Linked DNA regions of Homo sapiens. The protein of the gene in region 3 interacts with the protein of the main gene of each other region in a pairwise test. Each region holds a gene or a part of one and is shown on either strand. Other genes may lie near its edges.

Region 1 (7,027 bases), on a different chromosome or scaffold from region 3:
AGCGTTTACAGCACTAAATATTTTAGGTAACCCACACAAAAGTGAATACATACACACACACACACACACACAGATGACTGAACCCACGTGGTATCTGATTCAGCCGAAGCCCCCACACTACAGCTAGCCTGGGGAAGGTGGGCTCTGCAACCACAGCCCCAGGATCCTACAAGATGCTCGCATAGCTAAAGGTGAGGGGGCGTCCACACACACCTTCAGGGTCTCCAATACCACCCCCACGGGAAGAACCCCCACCCCCACTGCTGAATGCCAAGGAAACGGCATCACTCTTCATAAATATTTAAGAAATGCATCTTGAAACACACCAGGGGCTTACTGGAGAATGTGGAAACAGATGCGCACGCAGGAAGCTCAAGGTCATTAGGGAACACACCAGGGGCTTACTGGAGAATGTGGAAACAGATGGGCACGCAGGAAGCTCAAGGTCATTAGGGATGTGAAGAAAAGACACAAACCACCCACAGAGTCCTCTGCGACAGGATGCAGAGGGACGTCCCCACCAGAGTCTGGACTGCCAACCAGGGGGACCACGCAGACTAACGAGGGCTCTCCTGCCAAGTCACTCCCCAGCCCTGTGCTGGCGGTGAAAGGTGTTCCCGTGCAAAGCCGACCTTCAGATCTCTCAAGGCCCCAGGGTGACATGGTACCCGGTGAGGGTCAAGGCTGGACCACCCAAACCTGACCTCACATCACAGGCAAACAGGGTGTGGAGACCTCTCCAGCGTCAGCAACCGGTCATCACCGGAATCACGAAGCACGAAGGGCTGGAGCGGGCCCTGAGGGAGCCTTCCTGTCACCTGTCTGATGACGGCCCCTAATGACAGTCTCCAGACCGGAAGGAGAACTGCAAGCAGCGGCCCCAGCAGCCCCGACCCGCCACTCTGCAGGCATCAGTGGGGAAGTGCAATTTCAAAAATGTTTAGGTTTGGTTGAGAAACATCTCAGCCAGTGTTTATTCTCACTGTAAATATGCCTCCAGTTAATTAAGCGACTGCTTTCCTTGACAAGAACCTCTTTGGAAGCCCAAGCAGCTGGCCGCCGCTGGGGGAGTCCTCCTGCCATCCCGTGTGGCGGAGTCTCTCAGAACCTTCTCCCAGTCAGCAGTTACCTAGCAACCAGCCTAGTAACCTCACAGCCAAGAGATTAATCCCCAAGTGACAATCAGAAAGCTGCATGCAAAAAGACACTCCGTTTCAAGGATGCCATCCAAACGCCTATAAAGATGAGGTGCTTCTGAGCTACACAAATTGGAGAGAGGAGGGGACAAACGATTTACCTGTCACTTCAAGATCGGAAAGGCGAGATTCCATTCCTGCAATTCATGCATGGAGATGAAAGAGCTAAGATGATGGCTGGGCCAGGGAGCTGCACAGAAGCTGTCCAGTCACTAGTGGGACGAGGAAGATGCTCTGTCCCAACCACAGCTTCGACTGGGCCCTGGCAGGGGGGTACACAAGCCAGGGAGGGTGAATCTCTATTGCGGACCCTCCATCATGCCCGTGTCTCCAGCATAGCCTGCTCCCCATATGCTCCCGTTTCAGAAAGAGAGACCCGCCCAGCCCTCAACCAGCTGCAGCTTCACACACGCCTCATTGTGTGCACGCGTTCAGGGATGCCAGAAATCTAACTGGGTAATAAAAAGCTGGGAGAACATTCCAGAAAGGTGGGCACCCTTAGCATTCCCAAAAAGCACCAGCCCTCCTCATCCTTCCCAGCTTCTGTGCTGGAATGCACCCCCATCGGAAAGGCTCGAAAACTCAGGACACATTAGGATCACCTGGAAAGCATTTGTCAAAACGCATCTCCCTGCGGTTCAGGGTCCAAGTTAAAATCAAACTTCAGGTGATGCTGACTCAGGTGGCTCCAGAAACACCTGGGGAAGCAGCACTTTGGAGGCTGCCTCTCACATCCACCCCACAGCAAGTGGGCAGGGAGCTAGGTAAATCTCCTTCCCAGTTGAGAAGGGGCTCGGAGCAGGCACAGAGAAGAGATGCCCTTAGAATGCAAGTTGTTCAGCTGCGAAAGTCCAGCCTGCAGGCTTCCTGGGCAAGCTAGTGGGCTGAAGTATGCCACAGCAACAGGCTTCTAGAGCCGGCTGCCCAGCTCCTACTCTGCCTCTGCCACTCACTGACTGTGTGGTCTTGAGCAGGTCACCTGTCTGACTTGGTGAGAGCTGACAGGCATCACCTGTTAGAGGCTTACGCGTAAGCATGGCCCCGAGAGAGGCTTCAATCCAATGAGCTGCCAGCTGAACTTACTCAACAAGCAAGGACCCACGGGCAGACCCAGGAAATCTCGCCAAGTACCCCATTCATGGGAGGCCAGCAGCACAATTAGTCATCCATTTACTTATCAAGCTGTTACTGTGTGTGCAAGAAGCGCCAGAGAGATGATATCAAGGAGCTCTTACCATGGCTGGCATAGAGCGGCTGATGAGTAAGTTCCGTCTGCACAAAGAGTCCCTAAGCATTCATTCTTGGCTGACATTCTTGGCTCAGGGGGTCTCCATGGCCTTGTTCCCCTCCTCGGGTCACCAGTTCAGGTCGAGGGGGCCTATGCTTGGAAGGGCCACACCAATGGACCTTGCCAGGACACCCAGTCACAGGTTTCACACCCAAAGAGAAGACAGCCCAACCCAGACCCTCAAAAGAGAGCACCTGGGGGAAGGGAGCGTGGAAACCAGGACTCAGAAAGACACAAGAGAAAAAGAAGCTGTACACTGGGGAGGCTTCCGGGGTACCTGTGCCTGCCATGTCTCTGAAGGCCTTGGGGATGGGGAAGGAGGGCGCCGCACATTCTGTGTGGCTCAAGGCAGCAGAGCAAGGGTTTTGAATCAACAAAGGAAAAGGATTTGAAGAAGTGGAATGGCTCAACAGCGATGGCGCCTGGGGTGAGTGCTCCCACACAAACCCACTTCTCCAAGAAACCAAGGACCTCTGGTGCCACAGCCAAGAGCAGGCTGCCAAGGCTCTCTGCCTCAGTTTCCCCTCTATGTAAAATGGAGCTATAAGGGCGCCTACCTCCTGAGGTGTTTATGAAGATTAAATGAGACAATATGAGCATTAGGAGTGTGAAGCAGAGTCTAGCTCATGGATCACTCCGTCACTGTTAGATGCCATTGCAGCCTGGCTACAAAAGGCACTGGAAACAGGGCGGTGAGGTCTGTTGCAAATGAGAGTGACCCAGGAGGCTTCCTGGCAGAGGTGTGATCTGCACCTGCCCTGGGAGGAGATGGAAGGGATGGGGTCTGGGAAGCAGCAGGCGTCCCATGGGAGTGGGGAGGGATGTGGTGCAAGGTATGTTGGGAAGGCCTTGGCTTTGAAGCTAGAGAGTCACAGAGGGAGCACCCCAGCCACCCTGGGACCACCTGGGACTCAACAGCCTTACGTGTAAAGGGGCCGATGCCACCCCTTCAGGGCAGTTGTGAATCATAAAGGAGGAAAAGAAAACTAAGCAGAGGAACACACCCAGCAGACTTAGTCCAGTATAGTCATGTACTGAGCACCTACTGCATACATCGCCTTCTCAGACAGCCACAGGAGGTAGAGGCAGGGAGATGAGGCAGGGCTTCTGCTGCCAGCAGCCAGTCTATTGGGATGAGCATAATCACCCATGGTCTTCTGAGCCTTCAGGTTCTGGGCAACAGGGGCCAGGTAACCACAGAGTCCCAGCCAAGGCTGCCAAGGGCCCTGGTGGCAAATATGCATCACCCATTCCTTAGGCAAGAGACCTGGGGACCTGCTTCAGGTGGTCATGTGGGAAAAGTGCAAATGAAGAACACCAGAGGTCGGGGACAGAGGCTGGCACATCATAGACACTCAACAGATGAAGGAATAGCTGTTCAAGTGCCGCACTGCGCCCTGCTCTGTGGGGACCTAAAACGCCGGGGCTGGGAAAGCAAAGGGCAAGTGGGGCCTGAGAAACCCAGACACACTCAGACATCACACAGCATTTAGCCATCAGGACAGAGGACACCATGACCTTGAAATCAAGGCCACTCCTGCCTCAACCAGGGACAGCAGCCAAACCCAGGGTGCAAATGGGGCAGGACAGGTGAGTGGCAGCAGATAAGGCACGCGCTAATCCCACTGGCCAGCGCAGAAGACAGGTATTGACCTCGGATCAGTATGTCTTGGTCCTGGCCAAGAACCTCAAAAACGTACGATGGGCCGAGCCAGGAGCCACCAAAAGAGCCTCTCGGCACACACGACATCCTTACATACCAGCAGGGACAGACACAGACTGCTCTGTGCCTCGACTTCCCCATCTGTAACACTGGTAATACAAATAGTACCTACTATTAGTAGGGAGCAGGCAGAGGGCTGCTGGGAGGATTTGCTGAGCTGACACAAGTAATTGCCCCACAGCAACACTCATGGGACCCGCTGGACCAGGCAGGCCCTGACAGGCAGTGTGTGGCAACGGGAAGAAGGAGGGACTGAAAGTCAGATTACGCCCTGGCTTCCCCAGTCACTCTGTGGTTTTGGCTTCATCTGTTAACCAGGGATGGCTCCCAGTCCCACCTTCTGTGATCCACAAGGTTGTCACAGAGATCCAATATGATGCCATACCCACAGGGGCTCTGGAAACTGCAGCGGGTGGGGGTGGGAGTCCCTGTGCCCCCAGCACAAGCAAACTGCTCACACTGCCAAGTGGAGGGTGACCAGAGAGCCAGACAGGGCCACTCTGCAAGGCCTGGGGCCCACTGATGTCTCTCAATTCACCTCCTTGAATCTGGATGAGGCTACCGCTTTACTCTCTCTCTCTCATGTTTCCCAAAGAATGAGTTTCCTGATCAATATCCCAACTTGTTCTTCAACCAACGTGGCCTCTGAAGGCAGCCAGGCTGGCAAGAAGGCTCCTCCCACCGAGACAGGCTGGAACCCTCCCGCTCTCAGCAGCACCCCTTCATCCCATTGGGATGGGGGGAAGGATGGAGGATACACACAGGCCCAAAGCCAGACCCCCTGCAGATCAGATCCTGGCTCTGCTGTGTAGAGCTGTGACCACTCTGTGCCTCAACCTTTCCATCTGCAAAATGGGTTATACCGATAGTACTGGTGTGCCAGGAGGGTTGCTCAGATGAGCTCACTAGGTAAAGGGCTGGGACCCCTTTCTGGCATGTGATCAGTGCTGTGCGTTATCTTTTTGTTATTGCCTGCTTCCTTCCTGGAACTGTTAAGTAAATATTGTAATGTTTGGTAAGTGATTTTTCATATGTTTATAATCTTTGCCTAAAAGACAGTTTGTGGGTGGGTTTCCCCTGTTATAAAAATAAGTAATATGTGATCATTTTGGAAGAGGAAAAGAAAAAAGAAATGTACAAAAAGCACAAGGACAACATCTTGGCAGGCAGTCACAAGCTACTGGGTGTGCACAGCTGGGATGAGCCCAGACAAACGGCGTCAAACCCTGGCCCTCCCTGCAGGGCATCTATGCAGCTCAGCAGACCCCTTCTGGGGGCAAAAGCAGCATCTCACCCAGCACAGGACCACTCACCTTAAACCTCTCGGTGACACCCTCCGTGATGCTGACGGTGAACTCAGCAATTTGGGGAGGACGTGCTTTCCCTTTCTTGCGGTCAGGTTCATACTCGGTCTTAGTTTTCACGACCACCTTATCCAGGAAACAGAGAAACAAAAGTCAGATGCATTCAGACATATCTGCCCAAAGAGGGTGGGTCTGGGAACTCCCATATTCAAAGTCACCATTTGCCAGGAAGAAATTCACAAGAACGAGAACAGCCACTACTTTTTGGAAATCTCCTCTGTGGCAGGACTTTCAGAGAAATGACCCATTCATAATCCTGATAGCAGTCCCAGGAGGGAAATATTATAACCGAGGGGCACAGAAGTTAAGCTCATTGGCCAAGGTCATGCGGTTTATAGGCGGCAGGGCGGGGATGCAGCCTGGCAGCTGACTCCTAACCCAGTGCTCCTTCCACCCACCAGAGCCAAAGCCTGGCTTGGCCCAGGAAGCTGGGAGGCTGCACCTGCCTTTTCACTGGCCTTGCTGTGCCACCATGGGCACAAGAAGAGGAGGTCTGAGGGTACTGTCCACAGCCCTCCAGGACTGGCTGGAGAAGCTGGCCACCAGCTTGTCTGGAAACAGATCCAGGATCAACCTCTTTGTCTCCACCCCCACATCCTCCTCTCCCCCTGCCCCTGCCACAGCCCCCAAAGGGTCTCCCTGCTCTCATTCCCCTCCACCCCCTACTGTGAAGCAGAACGATGTTTGTCCAACCTGGAAACCAGCCCTTGCATCTGCCCTACACCCCAGCAGCTTCAGATGGACCCAAGAAGCCTCCCAGCCCTGGACACTCACAGCCCTGGCCTCAGCGGCGCTGCCTTCATCACTCACCACACCCGTTGCCAGGGACTGTTTACTTCTCTGTCCCACTGGACTGGGAGGTGTTCAAGAGCAGGGTCAAGGTGTTATAGGTCTCTAATCCCCAAACCCCGCTCCCCAAGCCAGGTTCCAGGAGAGGCTGTTGCACTAGAGACAGCCAGCCACCTCCAAGCTCTTTCTCCCCCGAGGGACGAGGCCCCTTCATTGGGCAGTCCGTCACCTGCTCTCCACGATGGTGGGGACCAGGACAGAACAAAGAGACCCCAGCAACTGGGGATGGTCAGCCCCAGGCGGGCAGCCAGAGGGCCTCTCATCCGGTGCTACGACCCCCAAAGCCAGCCTTGGGGAGAAAGAACAGCGGAGCCCATTCCAGGGTCACTGAAAAATGATCCCAAGAGCCATAAACCTTGTAACCACACTCTTGGCCTCTGACCCCAACTCCTTTTCCACCCAGTGCTCCTGCGGTGGAGAGGGAGGGGTGCCTGGCATGGGTTGGCCTGGGCACCCACCCCTGTGAGGCACTCATTGCTTGAGGCAGTGGTTGGGTGTCACCCTGCCATCCTCAAACCCCGACTGGACCCAACTAGCCATGTGACCTTGAGCACGCAGGCCTAGACTGGCCAATGAATGGGAAATAAGGCTACTGCTGAGGATGAGG
Region 2 (7,027 bases), on a different chromosome or scaffold from region 3:
GTAGAGACAGCCAAGGCAGAGACCTAGACGGCACAGTGTGGGGGCAGAGAGCAGGTGCCCCCTGCTGTACAATAACATTAAGAACCACCCGTGCATTATATTTACACTCAGAAAACCAAGGTCAATTTTTACATGGGGAAAAAGCACTGTGTCCCAGTCACTGAGATGAGTCAGCAGGGGGCACAGGGCTGCGATCTGCAGGGGCTTTGGGGACCCCAGGAAGTAAGAGAGGCGATGGTATGAACCCACTGTCAGCCAGCACACTGCTTCCTGGCATCTGGCCCAGCCTGAGCCCTGGGGAGGCGCTGTGTGAAGCCCTGTGTGAGCGGTCCAGGGGCCCAAGGAACAGGTTGGAGAGTGTGAAGGGTGTCCTGGGGAAAGTCTGTTCTTTACCCAGAGACCAGCAGTGGCTAAAAACTGCCTGGGGGGATGGCTGGGGAGTCTGCCTAGGCAGGGGAGACACAGAGCACAAAGGAAGAGGGGAGGAGGAAGGAAAAAGAGGCATATGAGGCAGGGAATGGAGAAGGAGCATCCCTCAGGTAGACAGGTGGGAAAGGCCCCAGGGGAGGCCTTAGGGAGTGGGACCCAACAAGTCCGTTCTTTTAACAGAAAAGCCCCGTAGTGATGCTGCCTAAATTACTGAGAACTGCTGCTTCTCAGTATCAGAGCCTGGGGCAGGGAATTGAGGCCTGCTGGGTGAAGGAGTGAGCTCAGCGAGGAGACCCATGAGACCAAAGGCCCTCCACAGAGGGGGTGTTCTGTGCAGAAGAATGAGAAGATCTAAAGTCAGCCCAGCAGTCAAGGCTGCAGAGGCTGTGTTGTAGGCCTGAGGGGTGCTGGGGACAAGGCCCTAGCCAAGTAGGGCCGTCAATCCTGCTGGCAGGTGCCAAGAGCAGAAAGGGCTTCTTCATGCCCAGCGGCAGGGGCAGGGACTCTTCCTGCAGCCTCCCTGAGAGCCCATCAGACAGATGCAGCTCCAAGCACCCGGGCCTGGAGTTCAGCAGCCCCCAGGCAGATAAGCAAACTCCCCTCTGCAGCCTGACTTGGGGAATATCACCTTATTCTGGGAGCTTTAAGGAAGTCTCCCTGGGGTCCTATATGCCATAAAACCACTGTGTTAAGAGAAACTGTAAAATTCGTGTGAAATCCCCGCGAGGCATCTTTTCAGGAGTGTAGGCCCTCTCAGAATCAGAGCCCCACGGAGGCCTCACTGGGGGCAGGGAATTTCGTGCCAGCTCATGCACAGATAACTGCCCCAGCATCCTGGCCAGGTCAGCTGATGGGGTGCCAGCTCCACGGCTAGCTGCTGTTGGGGGCCTCATATGCAGCTTTTCTGCCAACAAGCACGAGACAGTTCGAGCCACAGGCTACCGTTCACTCTATTCTCCTACTGAATGGTGTTCCCACAGAGCATCTAGACAGCCGGGGAGGTGGCTCTCTGCCCACTCCCTAATGAACCACTGTCTAGGGCCAGACCTGTTTCTGGGAAAGGGCAGAAGGCACCCCCGGGGCCTGGTGCTGGGCTACACAGGCCACTCTGCTTTCTGATTTAGGAAGCTGTTTGCTGTCTCTCCGGCTTTACTCTTGGGAGCTTCTGGCCAGCGAGTGACAGGTTTGCTACAGGGTCAGGCAGTGGTAATGGGGCATACACTGCACCTGGCTGGACAGGTCCTTACTGGGCACTCAGACCTTCCAATAAAGAGCGTGGTGCCAGGGTAGCTGAGCCGAGCCAAGTCACAGAGTCTCCAGTGTCTGCATGACAGCATGAGTGTAAGCAGCCTCTGGAAACCAAAAGTCCCAGCAAAATGGAACCACAACAGTGACAGCAGCAGCAACACTTCTGTAGTCTGTGCTGTGTGCCAGGCACTGACCTACATGCTTTACACCGATTAACTCACATAATGCTCGCAAGAACCCTGTGAGGTGGGCAGTATTATCAGCATCCACATTTGACAGATGAGGGGACTCAGACATAGGTAACTGTCCAGGGTCACACAGGCATTAAGTCCGGGAGCTGGGCAGCCACGTCTGTGCCCTTAACCACCATGCCACATGGAGAAGGCAGCGCTCATCAGCTCTGAGGGACTCCTAGCTCCTGGGCACAACCTCCACACCTTACCCCTGGAGCTGGGCAGGTTGTGGGCAGCTTCCTGTGTCTGCAACCGCCCTGCAAGGAAGGGCCCATCTCCATCTTACAGAGGTGCAAGCTCCCTTGCAGAGGTTTTCAGCACCTTGCCCAAGGTCGTGTAACTGGGAAGGGGCAGAATTGAAGCCTGAATCTGGGTTTTTCTGCTTCAGGGCTTATGCTCTTTCCACCACTTCAAGCTCTTTCTCCAAAATCCCTCATGAAAACATTCATGACAAGAGTTCTGCAGAACAGTCATTCCACATCCCAGCTGAAGCCCATCTAAGCTTGCTGATCTGGCTTCAACAGATTCTCTACTCGGAATAATCTTGTACAAGGCTCTGCTCAGTTTCTGTCTACATAACAGATACTCTCTGTGAGGGAAAGCCCTCATTGAAATTTGTTTGTTGAGACAGAGGAGACAGGAGCCCAGCGTCTGCCCTTACACTGGGCCAACTCAATGAGCTTCACAAACATCCCAGGCATTTTGCCCCAGATCACCTCGACTGTCAAAGCATCCTCCAAAATTCACACAAAACAGATCCAGTTTGGAGACGGAAAAAGGTGGGCTACTTGGGCCTGATAAACCCTTCTTTCCCCAGCAGTACCGAAGCCTTCCCTTTCACTTGCTAATTCACAGCCTGGAGAGTGGTGTCAGCTGTTTCATCTCCAGCCCCAGCAGCCTGGGAACTGGATTTTTGAAAATTCACTCATTTTCACACGTCAGGAGACCCCAGGACATTTATTATAATGGGTAAAGCAGCCAAGTGCCTGCCCAGATGGTCTCTGGCAAGAGTGCAGGGGCTTTCCATTTGGAGCCTTCAGGCTCCACAGCAAGTCACACGGGGTTCTTAGGCCTCAATTTTCCAGGTGACAAGCCTCAAACCCCAAGGGGCCCATTATCCCCACATCGTTTAAGGGATGTTTTTCTGTGGAGGCGGCTCACAGAGCTCTGTGGGGGCAGAAAAACCTCCGCCCATGGCTCCCCACATCAACAGGCCCTGTAAGGATTTCTCTCGCAGGTTGTGCAGCTGAAGACGGCAGACCTTCCCAGTTTTTAATCAATGAACAATTTTCAGGAAGAGCAGGGAGAGCCTAGGGGCTTGTCGCTCGCCTGGACACACCCCCATGCCAGGTCAGAAAGGCGAGGGAACCGCTGCAGCCCACGCGAGTCCCGACGCCTTCCCGCGAGGAGACGGAGGCCGAGCCAGCCTTGCAAGTTAGCGCCCGAGCCAGTCCGCGCCCGAAGATGCCAGCTGTCCCTGGGCCGGAAGGTGGTGTGGGGTTTGTTTTGTCTTCTTTCCCCCCGATATCTATTTTTTGATAAACTAGCAAAAGCTTGTTCATCGCTGAAAGGCTCAAAGCACTTTTCAAGAACTGGCATCCACCCCGAGCCTTATGAATTCATTAATTAAGATGCTGGCAGACAGCCACTCCACACACGCCGCCATCCAGCCGCGCTAGGTAATGAGGTTTTAGTCTCCTGACCCCCGTCAAGTGGCGCAGAGCCAGATGTAGGCTGCCGCGAGAAATCACCTGCCCAATGGCGACCTGTCGCTCTCGCCTGGCAGCAGGTGAGGCTCATTTAATGGTCAGCGGCCCCTGAACAGTCCTCTGCGTGCTGCGAGCCTTTCTCCCAGCCCCTGGCTTGGGGTTCAGGGTCCCAGCAAGGTGGCGTCTAACCGCCTGCTCTACTGTGACCTCCACTCAACTGGGCCCAGACGTCAGGGTGGAAGGTTCAATGCCTCCTCCTGCCAATCGAGCCAGTTCAGCAAATATTTATTGACAGTCCACTCACCTGCTCCTAGCCCTTGTCTCAGGAAAGTGGGAGGTTCCCCTGAGCCCTGTGCACAGCCTGCTCCAGAGCGGAGACCGTCTTCAGCCACACTTGGTGCTTCTGCCTGCCCTGCCCCACGGAGGCTACTGCAGTGGCTGGCACCATACAAATAACCACAAGCGTCAAGCCTTCCGGTGCTCTTCCTGGCCTAGGCCATTCTCTCCCCTCAGCCTACCACTTCTCATGGTCAGTGATCCTGCCTTTTTTTTTTTTTTTTTTTTTTTTTTGAGACGAAGTTTCCCTCTTGTTGCCCAGGCTAGAGTGCGATGGCACCATCTCGGCTCACCGCAACCTCCACCTCCCAGGTTCAAGCGATTCTCCTGCCTCAGCCTCCCGAGTAGCTGGGATTACAGGCATGTACCCCCATGCCTGGCTAATTTTGTATTTTTAGTAGATGGGGTTTCTCCACGTTGGTCAGGCTGGTCTCGAACTCGTGACCTCAGGTGATCCGCCCGCCTGGGCCTCCCAAAGTGTTGGGATTACAGGCGTGAGCCACCGCACCCAGCCGATCCTGCCCTCTTTTTCTGGTAAGGATTCCAGTGAATTTTCAATGACTCCCATTAGCATTTATTCCTTACAGCAGATACTGTCAACTGGCCAACACAACACCGACTCCCCACCCCTGCTCCTTTGCCCACCTCTACTCCAGAAGGTGGAAAAGCTCAGCAGATGCTCTCCCAACCTCACTGCAGCTAGGCTTGCTCATGACCCAGTTCTGGCCAATGAGACGTTCCAGAAGTCAGCTAGGAGACTCCTGGGGAAGCTTATGCTTTGTTGATAAAAGGGACAGTGTTGTTCCTTCCTCCTCCTTCCTGAGTTAAAGTTGAATATTAGACTGGAGCTGTGGCAGCTATATTGTGACCATGAGGAAACAGTGAAGAGAATGCAGAAATACCAACTCTGACATAGCTAAGCTTTTGAACCAATGCCAGTAGCCACCTACCTACAAATTTTTTTTTTTTTTTTGAGACGGGGTCTCTGTTGCCCAGACTGGAGTGCAGTGGCACGATCTTGGCTCACTGCAACCTCCACCTCCTGGGTTCAAGCAATTCTCCTGCCTCAGCCTCCCGAGTAGCTGGGATTACAGGCGTGTACCACCACTCCTGGCTAATTTTTGTATTTTTAGTAGAGATGGTGTTTCACCATGTTGGTCAGGCTGGTCTCGAACTCCTGACCTCAAATGATGCACCTGCCTCAGCCTCCCAAAATACTGGGATTACAGGCGTGAGCCACTGCACCTGGCCCCTACAAATTTCTATAAGGGGAAAAGTCTACTCCCATTTGCTTAAATCATTGAGGTCAGTTTTCTATAACTTGTAGCCAAAAGCTTTCCAAACTGATAAACTTTCTGTACTAGGGGTCAGATCCAACCAAGTTATCCACTTTAGGATACCGGCTAAGACACCACACATCTGTTAACTCAAGACCAACTGGTCACTGAAACATCTAAAGACACCAGTTTGAACAGTCCAGCTACAAAAGAAAAGTGCAATGACAAAGGAACAGCTCATTACCATCAGAGATCCGAAAACACAAACAGGTTTTACATCAGTCAAAATTCTCCTATCAGTTTAGACTGAAATTCAACCTTTCCTTCCTCCCACACAACATTAAAATCAGTACTGGGTGGGTGATTTCTCATTTGAACTATAATTTTCTTTTCTTATTAAGAATGAAATCTCAGAAGCTAAAACTCACAGTTTTTTCCAACTCTGAGATCTCATATGGTGGCAAATGAATTGGATAAAAAGACCTCAAAAGGAACCACTTTGAGGGGGAGGCTAGAGGGTGCCCTGGTTGTCCTAAGAGGTGGCTGCTTATACAGCTGGCCCAAGCCAGCCCTAAGGGTGAGTGCTGCCTGCTTGGTAATTGCTTCATTACAAGTGGAGACTGTTTGCAGGTGCTGAGATCACTCACTTGTGGGGGTTTTATTGCACTCGTCAGATTAACAAACATTTTTGATTAAATCACCACTTCATTGGCTCTGAGCACACAACTTTTAATAAGAGGACAATATCTACTGCTACTGAGCATCAGTGCACATTCAATACTCAGACCCGCTGGGGGCAACTGAGAAGCAAGGTGGGGAGACAGCCAGCCAGATGTCAGGCTTTTTCCAAGGCACACGGTTACAGATGTCAAATCTTCGAATATCCAAGCAAAAAGTAAACTTAGGGACCAAGATAGCAAATATAAACATCTACCGTGGTATGGAGAGGGTAAAACAATGGAATCTGCCCCAGTATAAGGCACTTGGAGAATACATGCCCCACCAAGTTTAAAAACGTAAAAATCCGGCCGAGTGTGGTGGCTCACGCCTGTAATCCCAGCACTTTGGGAGGCCGAGGCGGGCGGATCACTTGAGGTCAGGAGTTCAAGACCAGCTGGCCAACATGGTGAAACCCCGTCTCTACTAAAAATACAAAACTTAGCTGGGCATGGTGGTGCACGCCTGTAGTCTCAGCTTCTCGGGAGGCTAAGGCACGAGAATTGCTTGAACCCGGGAGGCTGGAGGCTGCAGTGAGCTGAGATCATGCCGCTGCACTACAGCCTGGGCAACAGAGCAAGACCCTGTCTAAAAATAAAATAAAATAAAATAAAAACTTAAAAGTCTGTCAGCCAAACAGAAGACATCTGTGATCTGTATTTGGGCCATAGTCAAGGAGTTTGTAACCCCTGGTGAAATTCAAGTCCTTCATGTTATAGATGAGTGAACGAATGCCCAAGAACGAGTTTGACTTAGCCATGGTGGAAGGATGCAAAAGAAATACAAAGGCTGGAGCTACCATGTATTGATTACCAATCCGGTGCCAGGCACGTGCTGGGCACTTAACGCAATGTCTCATTTAATCCTCACAACCACACTGTGAGGTGAGGTGCCATCTGTAGTGAGACTACAGGCTGTCTGTGAAAACACACTGGTCTCTTCCTCCATAGTAAGCAAACAGTAGCTGGCTATGTGGCCTCCTGACTGGTGAACGCATTTCCCTGATCCCTTGCAGTCAGGTGGGGTTTTAGTTCTTGCCAATGGAAAGTGGACAGTTTGGGCCCAGGACAGTGGGTGT
Region 3 (7,027 bases):
AGTTTTGTCTTATCCTTTCTGTTTCTATTTTTGTTTGCTCTGAGTTCCTCACTTAATTTTTGTTTTGTATTATATATATTTTAGTAGCTGCCTCAAATCCTTTTGAAATGAAGCAGAGTACCAATAAATAAGTAGAATAAAATCTGAAGAAAATCAAGTAATTGGCTCCAAACCACAAATCCACACAATGAAATCTCACTCGGAGAGCTTTTGCTATTCAGAATTCAATAAAATGTAGGTCTTCCTTGGACTCCCTTCAAGGGGCAAAGTTTCTAAGATAATTATAAGGTGATCTTACTTTTAATGTGATCCCACACATACATCGTTTAGAAACCTGTTAAGAAAATAGTAATATTGTCATTGTAGTGATTGATGGTATTTGAAAACTGCATTGTAAAATCTGGGACTGTTCACAGAAGCAGGTAAACCTGAGGACAAACATGTCTATGTACCTGAAAATACTTTTTCTATCTTAGTGATTTTTTTTTTAAAACTAAGGTTGCTAGGGAGGTGATTTATCAACTTTAGAAAAATAAAGGGAGCTAAGCTTAAAATATACTAATATACTATGTGGGAAAAATGGCTCCTGAAATGAGAGTGCTTAATAGAATCTGCATGAAGTCAACAGCAATGGTGTTAACCAAAGCATACATTTTCCATTCCCATCCTATAGAAATTGCATTCATCTGCCACCAGGCTATTGTTACTTTAATACTTAAACCTCACTAGTAAAAGGAAGCTCTTTCACCCACGTTAAGATTTTGCCATTTTGCACTCCTATTTCTCTATTCTCATGCTTAATGAATACAACCCCTCCTCATCTATCTAGATATGTATCAAGCTTAACAGATTCTATTTACACCAGGCAGATTTGTTGAGTCCTATAGCCAATTCAAAACTTTGTTTTCAAAAGATGACTGATAATTAGTTTATAATTAATTCCTAATGCTGTATTTCACAGAGTAGGCACTGTATCTTTATGGTTAACTCTAGGGAAGAGAAAACATAGCATTGTCAAGCATGATATTAAAATGACAAAATGACCTCAGGAAACCAGAGTTCTAAACAATGACTACAGAAGAATAAAAAATATCTAGAAAATTGCAGTTATTTTAGTTTAATGGTATACATTGGCTATGATTACGATATGTAATTTATTTAAAGCATATTTTTTAAAAACTAGTTTCAATTCATCTTTATATGTATGTTAAAACCCAGTGCATCAGCCTGGAGACTTGTCAAGTTTGTTGTTTTATCTGCATTTACCAGGCTCCAGTGCTGCTCATCCATGGACTGTAGCCCCCAAGGGCAAGTGCCATGCTTCTATTCATTCCTGTCACTTAGCATTGGGTCTATTCTCAACCAGTGTTAGTTGAATGAAAAAATGGACTTTTACCTCCTTGCCATAATCCTAAAGCATGCCAAGATGGCATGAGCCTCAGCCTTTCAGAAAGAACAGACTTGAGTGCTAGCGAATATGTTCTGGAAAACGTTTGGCATACTGATACATCCAGGAGAGAAAGGACAAGGAATTTCTTCTTTTGTCCCTCTTTCAGGAAATCCTCACAGAGATTTTATTAATAGCTTGATTAATTTTAATAGCTTGGTTAATTCTATGATAGCTTGATTCAAATTGTGCCTTCACATACATTTGTACGTATCTCAGTGCAGCCACAGGAATTCTTGTAACCCAAGAGTAGAATTTATATTGTAGCCCATGTGTGTTTTTTTCCTTTGCAAATTCTCTCATCTATTCTATTTCTGAGAAAATTCTTTTAATAGCCCCTTTTATGGCCCAAATTTACATCTTACCAGGTAGATATTTCTCTGGGCTTCAGTGAAACTACTCTGGGAAATAACAGGAAAAAAAAATACACCTCTGAAAGTGAGCTAGCCCCAAGGAATAAGGTTCAGAAGTGAAATGTGATCTCATGGAATGCAACTACCTAAGTCGCTATACTTCAGCCTATTTTGTTTTCAGAGTAGCACACACCAATCAAGTGGTTGCCTATCTCAAAAACTTTAGAATTTATAATTTTAGAAATATGAAAGAGAATTTGCAATGTGATCTCAGTGGCTGGCTCACTTCTCCTTGTAAAAATTTTTATCTGATTATAAAACAAACAACCTACTTTTTCAAGGCATATCAGTGCCATGAAATCATGCTCCACCTTTGCCCGCTTTCATCATATCACCAGGAGCTGCAGTCTGATATAAGAGAGGCCATGACAGAGAGTTAATTTCTGCCAATGCCCTTCTGGCTTTTACCGCAAGATATGGTTATTTAATTTTCTTCTGGGCATTTACATAGAGCTTTGATGGTGCTTCTTACCATATCACTGGGTCTGCCTGACTGCTTTATGGTGAATCTGAAACCATTGGGAAAATGGTCCAGAGTCCCTGAACTTTGCTGGATCCTAAAATTATAGTTTGGAAGCTGTGAGAATGTTGGTGAATAAAAAGAAGCATGTGTCTTTTCCATGAATTAATTTTGGGTGAGATTGCAGGATAAAATGATGCTTGCTCAGGAAGTGCCAATGCCCATCTACCCACCCTGACCTCGGGGAGCAGCACTCAGCCTGACATGCCAAGAACAGAGCTTTGTCCCCATGTCTCAGGTGACTGAAATTCTGCCTTCTGCCCAGAGCCCCTGCTTGGGCTTCAACCAGCAAAGCAAAGGCCTAGGAAACATTTGGTACCATCAGCTCTGGTGGTTGCACCTAAGATGGAATTTCATATAGCCTCTTGTTTATTTATTTATTTTATTTAACAAGGCGACCAGTTAGGGGACCCAGGTTAAGCCCTTCAACAGAACTATCCTGAAGAGCAAAAGTAGCAAATGACAGGCTATGACTAGGGATTGAATTTGGGGAAGGCTGGATTTGTGAAATGAGAGCCAAAAAAGTTTTCACCTTCTAGCCCACAGGTTAAGTTACTGAAAATCAGTCATCACCATTTCTACCCACTTGTGTGTTTCTCCTACTCTGGAGAGTAATCTAACTCATCATTTGCAATCAGGGCCTCTGAGTTCTGTTTGTGTTTGCTTTTGCTCTTCGCTTTGCTACTTGTCCGGCCGTTTGCCTTCGCATCTGACATCTGTTGGTAATAGAAGCCTTTGTCTTCAGTGGGCCCGCCCCAGTCCTCCTGGCTCTCGCCCTCTGTGGCGTAGGAGAAACCCTCCTCCACTGAGAAGGGGTCATCCACGTCGTAGCGTTGGTACGTGCTTTGGTGCAGGGCCTCTTCTCGAGCGCTGATTTCCAGGGTGCTGTTCCAGATGCCATATCCAAAATAAATGAGCAGACCTGTGGGGCGAGGGGAAAGGTACAGGTGAATAAGCAATTGCTTTGGGATCCTGGGACTAGCAGAGAGATCACCTTCAGTGATGAAATCAAAGCTGGCGGGGTGGGGGGCGGTGGGGGCGGGGATGTATTTTCTTTGCTTTATGTGGTGTTTTGAAAATACTTGAATTAGATGCCTTTTAAAAATTGGGAGATCTTGCGTTAAGTAACCCATATTTACAGATTTTCCTAGAAAAGTCAAAAGGTCTGACAACACTGCATCCACATTTCTACATGGTGATTTTTGGCTGGTGTTGAGAACTGGCTGCCTCTTTAGACAGGATACAGGGTCTCTAGGTTACCTCAGTCCCCACCTCCCATGCTGACGTCGGGCTCATTACACTCATATAGCTGCCAGCCAGGAATTTGCATTTTCTACCCTGGGTGAACTATTTATGGATCAGCAACAGTTTATTCCCAACGTTCTTATAAGATTTGATTATTCTCTGCCTCCAGTTAGGGACTCTATCTCATGTTTCACCTCTTAGCAGCATGCATATATTATCCTGTGATTTACCTTGACATTTTACACTCACTAAAGGCGTGATATATCATGGCCACTCCAAGCTGCCTGCTTTCTTCTGTGTGCTCTCAGAGTGTCTAGTGCATGCTACTATTATGTCCCTTAGAACATCTGTTGTGTGATTATCTGCACAGGGTCGTAGACTCTGCAGAAAATTGGCACTTAATGTTTGTTGAATGAATGGGTGAGAACTCCTGATAAGCGTGAAATGTCCAGTGCAACCTCTGTGTTGATGTCATCCCAATCAAAGGAAAGAAACTTGCCCCCCTCGTTAATATGTAGCATTCATATATGCTAATGTTTCATTTCTATGATTTAAAAAACATGCATAAAAGTCATTTATGAGTACCCATTTTCTTTTTCTTTTCTTTTTTTTTTTGAGACAGGGTCTCACTCTGTTGTCCAGGCTGGAGTGCAGTGGCATGATCTCGGCTCACTGCAGTCTCTGCCTCATGGGCTCAAGCGATTCTCCTGCCTTGGCCTCTCGAGTAGTTGGGACCACAGGCATGTGCCACCACGCCCAGCTAATTTTTGTATTTTTGAGAGATGGAGTTTCACCATGTTGCCCAGGCTGGTCTCAAATTCTTGGACTCAAGTGATCCGCCTGCTTCCACTTCCCAATGTGTTGGGATTACAGGCATGAGCCATCAGTCCTGGCCTGAGTCCCCATTTTCTATCTTGAATAGACTGTGAAGGTTCAGGGCCTGGAAGTCTGGGAACCATAACCTTGGAGTCCATAGAACATGATAAGTAAGACTGTGGGCTCTGTGTTCAAATCCTGCCTTCATCACTGTTAGCTGTGTAACCCTGGTCCCATTACTTAGCCTCTCTGTTCCTCAGCATTCTCTGTAAAACGATGAGAGCTATAGCAACCCTCTTAACATGGGAGTGCTTGAGGATGAAATGAGGTAAGTGGTGGTTCTCAACCCTGGCTGCACTTGAAAGTCACCTGGGGGTGTTTTTTGAACCACTCTGATACCCTAGCCCCATCCTGGAGATTCTGATTTAATTAGTCTGCAGTATAACCCAAGCATAGGTATGTTTTTAAAACTCCACAGGTGATTCCAATGGTCAGAGTGTCCCTGAGATAATGAACTGTGCCTGATGGGCACAGTGTTCCACTGCCCACTCAGCCCACACTATGGCCTAGGCACTGGGGTCCATACAGTATGCAACCTCCTTCCCGGGCCCTAACATCCTCCTCTGAGTAGCACCAGTCTCTTTGACTTTGCTAACCCTGCAGGCTTCTGCTGGGCTGGTTTGCTTAGAACCGCAAGTCAAGCCTGCTTTGCTGCTGTGGTGCTTGAGAAATCTTGCTCTCTTTTGAATTTGAAGTGTGCCTTTTTAAGCTTGGATTTCTCCCTCCTTGTCTCAAATGACTTTGTCCCCCCTCCCTCCCACACTCCCCAGTGAAATCAACTTTCCAGGAGCCAAAGTAAGCACAGATTTATAGTCCTAATTGGTAATAAATCCTAGAGTTAATTATTTGCAGATGTAGCTATTAGTGCTCAAATAATGATTCATCTTTTAAAAGCAGGGTATTTACTCTTTCTTTTCTGTAGGTGGGGGGTGGCTATGGGGGATGGTTATTATCCTTGTGTAGAACAGGGCATCACATTAAGGCCTCTTCTAAGAGTGCCAGTGTGCTGGTTCTTGGAGAATGCCTCTGTCTGAAGCATGTTTGGCATCTGAGAATGGATTTCAGGCGACCAGGCAGGACCTGTGCACACCTCCTTTTGCACTGCTTTGCTTTTTTGCCATCTTTTCTTCTAGACACCCAGGCAGATGCCAAATATTGCCTCCTACTCCTGCTTGGTACCTATTATGCCAATTCTTTCCTTTCTGATGCCCTTCTCTGACTTTGCTTATAGACGACTCATTTCCCTACTGAACTTAATACCATCTTTTTCTTTTCCCTTTGCCCCAAACGTCTCTCCTCTGCCACCACAAAGGTCATTGTTCAGTCACTGGTTTGACATCACTCATCACTGGTTTGTCGATTCCAACAGACCTGTCCCTGCCCCCACAAGGTATTTTGGGTGTCAGATAGATTCATATTATGGGAATTCTCTAAAAACCTTGAGTCATAGATATTTAGAGCTGGAAAAGATGCTATAGATCACCTATGCATTCTAAAACCTTCATTTTACAGAAGAAGAAACAGAGGCTGGGAAAGAATAAGTGACTTGCCTGGGTCTGAGAAGGAGAGGAACCAGCTTTATACATGGAGGGAGAGAAGTCTCTTGCGTGTCTAGTCCTTCACACCTCCTCTCCCCTCCCCCAGGCTGGTTTACAGACTATGCCCACTGCAGTAAACATGTGATAAGAGGTTTACATGTGTTCTTTGGGAGTGGCCAGGCCTGGAAGGAACATGTGTGTGTGTGTGTGTGTGTGTGTGTGTGTATGTGTGTGTGTCTGTGTCTGCGCGCTCTCACATATTGACTGTGGTTACTTTTTACTTTGTGAAGACAATCCATGGAAACTTGCCACATAAATATTTATGGGTCTTTTCATGTTTGCCCTGAACCCCCTGGAGTTTCAAAGGTGTATCACTCTGTCTTCAAAAATGCATTTCAAATGTGAGTACTGTGAAACAAGAAACGACCGTGTGCATGCAGCCTGGTAGAGTAAATAGTAGATGCAAAGCCGTTCCCCTAGGGCTTGGCATTCTGTGTGTCTATCTTTCTTGCTGGCCCTTGAGTCAATTCAGGAAAAGTGGTGTGAAACTGAGAAGGATTGGAGAAAAGAAAAATGGAGGGGGACAAAGAAACAGAGAGGAACAGATGAAGGGAGGGAGGGAGGGAGAGAGAGAGAAGAGAAGAGAAACGTATTACCATCTGTCCCACATAAACAAGGGCTTTGTGTCGGAGGAGTAAACAGAGCTGCTCCACGCCTCCTGTGTGGAAGCAGGGTGTTTTGTTTCTGCTCCTTTTTTTAGTTGGCTTAGAGAATGAAGCATGAGGTAGTTTCTGAAAAATCTGTAGGGGTTCTGGGAATCCTGAATCATCTAAACTAAACTTCACAAAGCATTTCTGTGTGCTGGGTTAGGATAATGATGGATGGTTGATGTTGCACCTTTGTCCCAAAGAGCTCAAAATGTTACACAAACAGTATCTTGTTTTGTTTAGACTCCCTTTAACCTGTCTGGGAAGGGGTGTGTGTGTGT
Region 4 (7,027 bases), on a different chromosome or scaffold from region 3:
AATGGGAATGTATATTCTATGCCTGTCCCACCATTCTGTTTTGGAAGCAGATAACTTTTTGTCTGGTTTCCCAGGTTCACACACAGCTAGAGAACAATTTTGCTTCAGGATGACTCATACCCTGAGTGTCACGCATACCCAATTTTATGATATTTAAGATGAGATTTTGGACTTGAGAGTTGATGTCTGAAAGACGTTTGGGGTTGTTGGGATGGAATATTTTCATTGGGTGAAGGACATGTATTCTGGTGGGGAGAGAGTGAAGTATTATGAGCTGAACTCTGTCCCCCACTTCCAAATTCATATGCTGAAATCCTAACCCCCAGGATGTGGTTTTAAAGTCAGAATGTGACTTTACTTGGAGATAAGTATTTACAAATGAGGTCATCAGGGTGGGCCCTAATCAAATACAACTGGTATTCTTATACAAAGGGGAAATTTGGAGACTGGACTGAACATCAGTTAGAAGGCACTGGCTCTGCCATCACCTGTTCTGGAGGGTCACTTAAGATTTTGGGGCCTCAGTTACTTTTGGTGAAAGGAAAGGGTCGGTTTCGATGATTTCCAATCTCTCTTTCAGCAGTAAGATTCTGCAATAATGTGATTTTTATCTTGAAGTTGTAGCTAACATAAGTTACCCAAGTAGACAGAGTTGAGCTATTAAAAACCATTATGGAAAAAGGAGGGTGGCTCCAATGCAATCTTCCTTCTTCTTGGGGGATTGTATAGTAACTGATGTGAAATACTCAGGATTGTAGTACTGTACTCCCATGTCCTCAATTCATCCTAACACACTGCTTTTAGTGAGTAGTTTTTGACTCAACAGCTAACAGAATCAGGCAGCTAATGTGACTGAGTAAAGTGGCCAGGTGAGAACGAGGGAAAGTTAGTCATCTAAAGTGGATAACTGATACTCAATTCTTTTTTCTTTTCTTTCTGTTTTTTTTTTTTTTTTCTGAGAGTTTCACTCTGTGGCTCAGGATGGAGTGTGGTGGCACGATCTTGGCTCACTGCAACCTCTGCCTCCAGGTTGAAGCGATTCTCGTGCCTTAGCCTCCCAAGTAGCTGAGATTACAGGCATGTACGCCCGGCTCATTTTTGTATGTTTAGTAGAGATGGAGTTTTGCAATGTTGGCCAGACTGGTCTTGAACTCCTGGGCTCAAGTGATCTGCCCACCTTAGCCTCCCAAAGTTCTGAGATTACAGGTGTAAGCCACCGTGCCCAGCCAAGGGATAACTGATACTCTATTCTAAACCATTGTCACCAGAATAGAACAGTGGGCTCTGTGTTCCAGATCTTAAAATATTTCCTAAGAAGCTGAAAATCTGGCCTTCATGTGAAATCTCCTATTTTTTTTTTTTTTTTTTTTGAGATGGAGTCTTGTTCTGTTGCCAGGCTGGGGTGCAGTGGCATGATCTCAGCTCACTGCAACCTCTGCCTCCTGGGTTCAAGCAGTTCTCCTGCCTCAGCCTCCCGAGTACCTGGGACTACAGGCACACGCCACCATGCCTGGCTAATTTTTGTATTTTTAGTAGAGATGGGATTTCACCATGTTGGCCAGGATGGTCTCCATCTCTTGACCTCGTGATCCACCTGCCTCAGTCTCCCAAAGTGCCGGGATTACAGGCATGAGCCACTGCGCCCAGCCAAAATCACCCAATTTTAAAATACTGATTCAAAAACAAAAATTCCACGATGTAGGCCTAACAGAACTTGATAGGTAGAAGTTGGGGGAGGCCAGCAGTTTGTGACCCCTCTTGTAAATGAGGATGATACTTACTTGGCACAAAACATCTGTCTTTGTGGAACTAACTAGATGGTCCTAGGTACATAAACTTAATTTTCATATCTAAAATGAATTTTTAAAAAAAGTTAGTCAATCTTATGTTACTTAAAAGAATGGCATAAATTAAACAAATCATTCAAAAAACCTTAATTTCATTATTCATTTTTAACTCCTCATTCAAAGCTGCTAAAAAGCAGTATTCTATTAATGTAGAGTGGATATTTCTCTCTAGTGGTTTTCAGGTCATCCTCTCATAGAAGTAGTAGAACTGTGGCCAAATGACTGTCAAATCAATCAAGTCAAGTGTAAGCAGGTACTTAAGTACTTCCTGAATAACATATATTGGACACATTCGTTTAAGTTTAAATACAGTTTTTCTTCCAAGAAGCTGAGAAAGGTTTATATTTTGTTCTCAAAATATTTTTGTCAAGTAACTAAATACTTCTGTAAATTAATGGAGAAAGATCACTATTTCCATTGAACAGGTGGAACATTATTAAAAGATTAGTGTCTTGTTCCCCAAGCTGTGGCCTGAACAGAATTAAAAATGTTGATACTTTTTCTAATAGAACATTGATTAAAATCAAAAGCTGATGAGAAAAGAAACCCTCAAATTCCTCTGCGCCATTTAACATTGGCTAATACCCTGACACATACAATCTTAGAGGATCCACACACACAAAAGTCTGATTCAGTAACCATGCACAGTAACCATGCACTCACTGTGCGTTATTTGTCTGATTCCATTGAGCTCCTGGCAGGGTGTCTGGCACAAAGCAGGGTGCTCAATGTCTGTGTCACAGAGTCCATTTACTGGGGATGTCTAGAATGCTGTGATTGTGTCAGAGGAAAGAGCCAGGGCTTCCTAAAATCTCCAAACCATCTTGCCTTTGGATGTATTTTCATGCAGGACTCAATCACTACATGTCTGTGCTGGCGCTTTTTCCACCTTTCAATTTTTATGTTATTGTACATACACTTTGGACAGGTTTTGCACAGCTTGGATAAGATTACGTGCCTTGCCAAGATGGAGGCTCTGCCATAAATGGAAACAAAAGAGAAATCAAATCACAGGTTAAAAGAGTTTTTCCAGCCACGAAATATTATCTTTTACTGCTTGTAGCTCTTTGCCACTTTCAGACTTTCCGTGACAGCCACTGGTGAGTCAAGGTGGCCGGAGCATCACACACTGCTTAGATAGAGCTCTAGCAGAATGGTAGTAAGACCTCTCCCAGGTGACTGCACCCACATAGAAAGTGGAGATCTGGGTGACTTTAAAGGAGATTGGTTACATTTAATAATGTATCTATTTAATTTGAGGTCCCTTTAGCTAACTAAGGCAGCATTGTGTTGTTAATGAGGACAAATTTCCCTAATATATATTTTTTGCTAACACTACATTTTTCCCTATAAAATTTTATAGACATGCCTCTTTCCTCTTTAGATTTGGAGGTTTTACTAGCTAACAAGACCAAGTGACTAGTAAAACTTTCAGGTAACTGTCAGCAGCTCTTAAATTCATATTGTAGTTTTAAAAATGGAGCTCTTTATAGGAGATCCTGTGTGAAGGCTAAAAGAAGAGGCTACAGTGGAATTTTCCCTCAGTCTCTGCATAGACTGTTGCCGGCAGTAATTCTCTTGTTTTATGTTCCCTCAGACAATACTTACTTTTCTGTGTATCCCAGATATAGTTGTTCAGAACTTCTCCCAGCAGGTACAGGAAGTTCATTAAGATGGTTGTAGACCCAAAGAAGATGATTCTGGCTCCTGGGCCAATGTGTTCCAGGAAAGGGTACACCCACATGCCAGTTACATGATGCACCCAGCACACCCTGCAAAAGAATCGGAAAGGAGACAAGGACAGGAGTCACTCTTATGGCAGGCATCAAAGCTGCTATGATGCAAATATACACTCCCTCACTCTCCCCATGCTTCAGCATTTGCCAGTCTCAAGTTCGCTTCTGATACTCAGGAGCTACTGGAAACTTGGTTGCTGTTTATTTTCATTTACTTTTTATTCTGAAATAATTTTAGACTCACAGAAGAAGCACAACACACTCAGCTTCCCCTCATGTTAACATCTTGTATAATCCTGGGACAATTGACTAAAATTAAAAAATTAACATTGATATGACAGTACTAAATTATAGGCTTTATTCAGAATTTCCCAGTATTCCTGTGAATGTCCTTTCTCTGTTCCAGGATCCAATCCAGGACCCCATGTGGTCTTCAGTCTTCACATCTCCGCAGTCTCATACTCTGGCAGTTTCTCAGTCTCTACTTGTCTTTGATGATATTTGAAGGGTATTTGAAATGGCTGACTTTATTAACACTGTTAAACAATCTGGTCATGTATTTGAAATGGCTGACTTTATTAACACTGTTCAACAATCTTTTAAATCTCTTCTTTACAGAATGAGACAATATGGCATTGGGCAACCACAGGAGAATAAGACCTAGGTGAGTCTGTGCCAGATACCTTGCCATATGGCCTTCCAACTAGACACCAACACTCATGCCATATGCTGACACAACCATGCATACCCTAGCAGGTACCAGCTTCCCACTCCTCTGATCTTCAGATGTGACATTGATTTCATTTTTTTTCCTATTTTACATTCTTACTTAATCATTCTCTTTGTGTTCCAGAAATATTTTTGACTCAGTGGGAATAGTAACATCATGAATTGCCACTGCTTTCAAAAGTTTAGTTAGAATATCGGCTCCATTGGCTTGGTCCTGACATGACTGCTTACAGCTGTTTTCCAAACATTCTTGAGTTCATTCCTTTATAAACTGTTGGCAATTGTGAAGACTAAATAAAATACAGATAACTCTATTGCATTGGGAATAAAGATGACTTTTCATACTTATGTGTTCTGAGGTCATTTTCCTTATCCTTGGCTTCACTCTAAGTGGTTTATCTACATATAAATATTACTGACAGGGTGCAGTGGCTCACATCTGTAATCTCAGCACTTTCGGAGGCTGAGGAGGGTGGGTCACCTGAGGTCAGGAGTTCAAGACCAGCCTGGCCAACATGGCGAAACCCCATCTCTATTAAAAATACAAAAATTAGCTGGGCGTGGTGGTGCGCGCCTGTAATCCCAGCTACTCGGGAGGCTGAGGCACAAGCATCACTTGACCCTGGGAGGCAGAGGTTGCAGTGAGCTGAGATCACACCACTGCACTCCAGCCTGGGTGACAAAGTGAGACTTGGTCTCAAAATAATAATAATAATAATAATAATAATAATAATAATAATAAACATTACCTACACATGTACCTCATTTTTGGCAGGAAACCTGGGGATCTATACCTGAGAACCTGCGTTATCAATGAGGGTGAGATCCCCCCTCTTCTTGCAGGCGAAAATTCATTCTGGGGTTGGTGGTAAAACAATTTTGCACTTTTTATGTAGAAAGCACAGATACACACACACACACATATACACACACACATATATACACACACACAGATGTACATATATGTATATAGAAACACATCAGTAGGTGAACAAACAATCAAATGTGGCATATGCATGCAATGGAATATTACTCAGCCATAAAGAGGAGTAAAATGTTGATACATGCTACAACATGGATGGACCTTGAAAACATTATGCTAAGCAAAATAAGCCAGACACAGGTCACATATTGTATATGATTCCACTTATATGAGGTACCTAGAATAGGCAATTTCACAGAGACAGAAAGCATGGTATCTATCAGTTACCAGGGACTCGGGGGAGTGGAGAATAGGGAGTTATTGTTTAACGGGAACAGAGTTTATGTGGGGGGATGATGAGAAAATTTTGGGTATAGATACTGGTGATGGTTACACAATGTTGTAAATACATTTAAGGACATTAAATAGTATACTTGCAAATAGCTAAAATGACAAATATTATGTTATGTATATTTTAGCACAATAAAAAATGTTCCTGTGGTGGAAATTAGGAAAAAAAAAACAGGTCTACAAAGGTTCCTTGGTAGAGGGAAGTAGTAATGAAAGAAAGATTGAGGAACAATCTTACAGCAAAGAGGCATTCTCTAGGTCTGTCCAGGTCAGTCTCAATCACTGTCCAAACAAAAATATTTGTATCAAAAAAAGAGGCCATGTTAGTCCAAAGATTCTGTTAGAAAAGCTGAAGCAGTTGTGAGAATCCGCAGAAATTAAATGGTTAGAACTACCCTGTGGGATTCTGAGATATCATATTGTTTGTCCATAAATTAGAAGCAGTTTCATCATTCTGACATTGTCTTAAATAATGTAAGGAAGGTGCTGTGTACCCATCAAATGGTTTATTAATTTCCATGGAGAGAATATGCAATATTCCCCCAATTTAACACCATTAAGCTGTAATTGATGTTGCAAATCAACTTATAAAATTTTAATCAGTCTGTGCTACAGGGTGTTTGCACTGGAGCAGTCGGATGGATCTGGATTAAATGTGAGTCAGGCCATGCCACTATTCTGCTCAAAACTTGCTTCCTCTCCCACTCAGAGTACAAGCCAGAGTCCCTAGATGGTTCTTCAAGGCCCTACCCCGCACTTTTCTGATTTAATCTCCTGTTATTCTCCCCATCGTTCCCCGCCACTCCAGCCCATCAACTCCTTGGTGTTCCTCGAACACTCTAAGCTCTCTCTGCCTCCAGGCTTTTGTATTATTCCCCTGCCCAGAACAATACTCCTCACCACCCCCACAGCATCCCCTTGGGCTCCCTTGTGTCCTTCGGGTTTTCACTCAAATGTCACCTTTCCAGTGATGTCTTCCCTGGCCACTGTATCTAAAAATTGCAACCTCTACCCTCAAACTCTCTATTCTTTCATCCTTTATTTTTTCTCCCAGCCAAATAATATACTCTACTTATTTTTATTTGTCTGTTTATTGTCTATTCAATGAGCAAAGGAATTTTGTCCAATTATGTTCATTGCTGTATTCTGTGGTTCTTGGAGCAGTATCTGGCAGAGTATGCACTCAATAACTATTTGTTGAATTAATAATCTAATGAAGGAATATAAACAGCAACATCTGTTTATTGAGCCATTACTATATGGCAGGCACTTCGCCAATAACTTATGAATTTTTTTTAATCTCAAAAAAAACCTCCAAAATCTTTATGCTTTTTGTCACTATATTTAATTTAAGTCAGGAGTAGGGAAACCTTTTCTGTAAAGAACCAGATAGTAAATATTCCCATATGGTCTCGATCACACCTACTCAACTCCGCCATTGT

The links.
Region 1: the proteins of SLC7A14 (region 3) and NSG1 interact in binary tests that used the Homo sapiens proteins (3 or more experiments, as listed by UniProt).
Region 2: the proteins of SLC7A14 (region 3) and CCDC167 interact in binary tests that used the Homo sapiens proteins (3 or more experiments, as listed by UniProt).
Region 4: the proteins of SLC7A14 (region 3) and AIG1 interact in binary tests that used the Homo sapiens proteins (3 or more experiments, as listed by UniProt).

Annotation. Positions count from the first base shown.
Region 1 is NC_000004.12:4,390,085-4,397,111, reverse strand, and holds part of NSG1 (neuronal vesicle trafficking-associated protein 1), read right to left. Parts: intron 5,638-7,027; coding exon 5,521-5,637; intron 1-5,520.
Region 2 is NC_000006.12:37,489,894-37,496,920, forward strand, and holds part of CCDC167 (coiled-coil domain-containing protein 167), read right to left. Parts: intron 1-7,027.
Region 3 is NC_000003.12:170,464,076-170,471,102, forward strand, and holds part of SLC7A14 (solute carrier family 7 member 14), read right to left. Parts: intron 3,328-7,027; exon of another isoform or gene 3,303-3,327; coding exon 2,980-3,302; 3' UTR 1-2,979. UniProt on the Homo sapiens protein: Imports 4-aminobutanoate (GABA) into lysosomes. May act as a GABA sensor that regulates mTORC2-dependent INS signaling and gluconeogenesis. The transport mechanism and substrate selectivity remain to be elucidated.
Region 4 is NC_000006.12:143,329,874-143,336,900, reverse strand, and holds part of AIG1 (androgen-induced gene 1 protein), read right to left. Parts: intron 3,620-7,027; coding exon 3,456-3,619; intron 2,824-3,455; coding exon of another isoform or gene 2,806-2,823; exon of another isoform or gene 2,511-2,805; intron 1,851-2,510; coding exon of another isoform or gene 1,810-1,850; exon of another isoform or gene 1,782-1,809; intron 1-1,781. UniProt on the Homo sapiens protein: Hydrolyzes bioactive fatty-acid esters of hydroxy-fatty acids (FAHFAs), but not other major classes of lipids. Show a preference for FAHFAs with branching distal from the carboxylate head group of the lipids.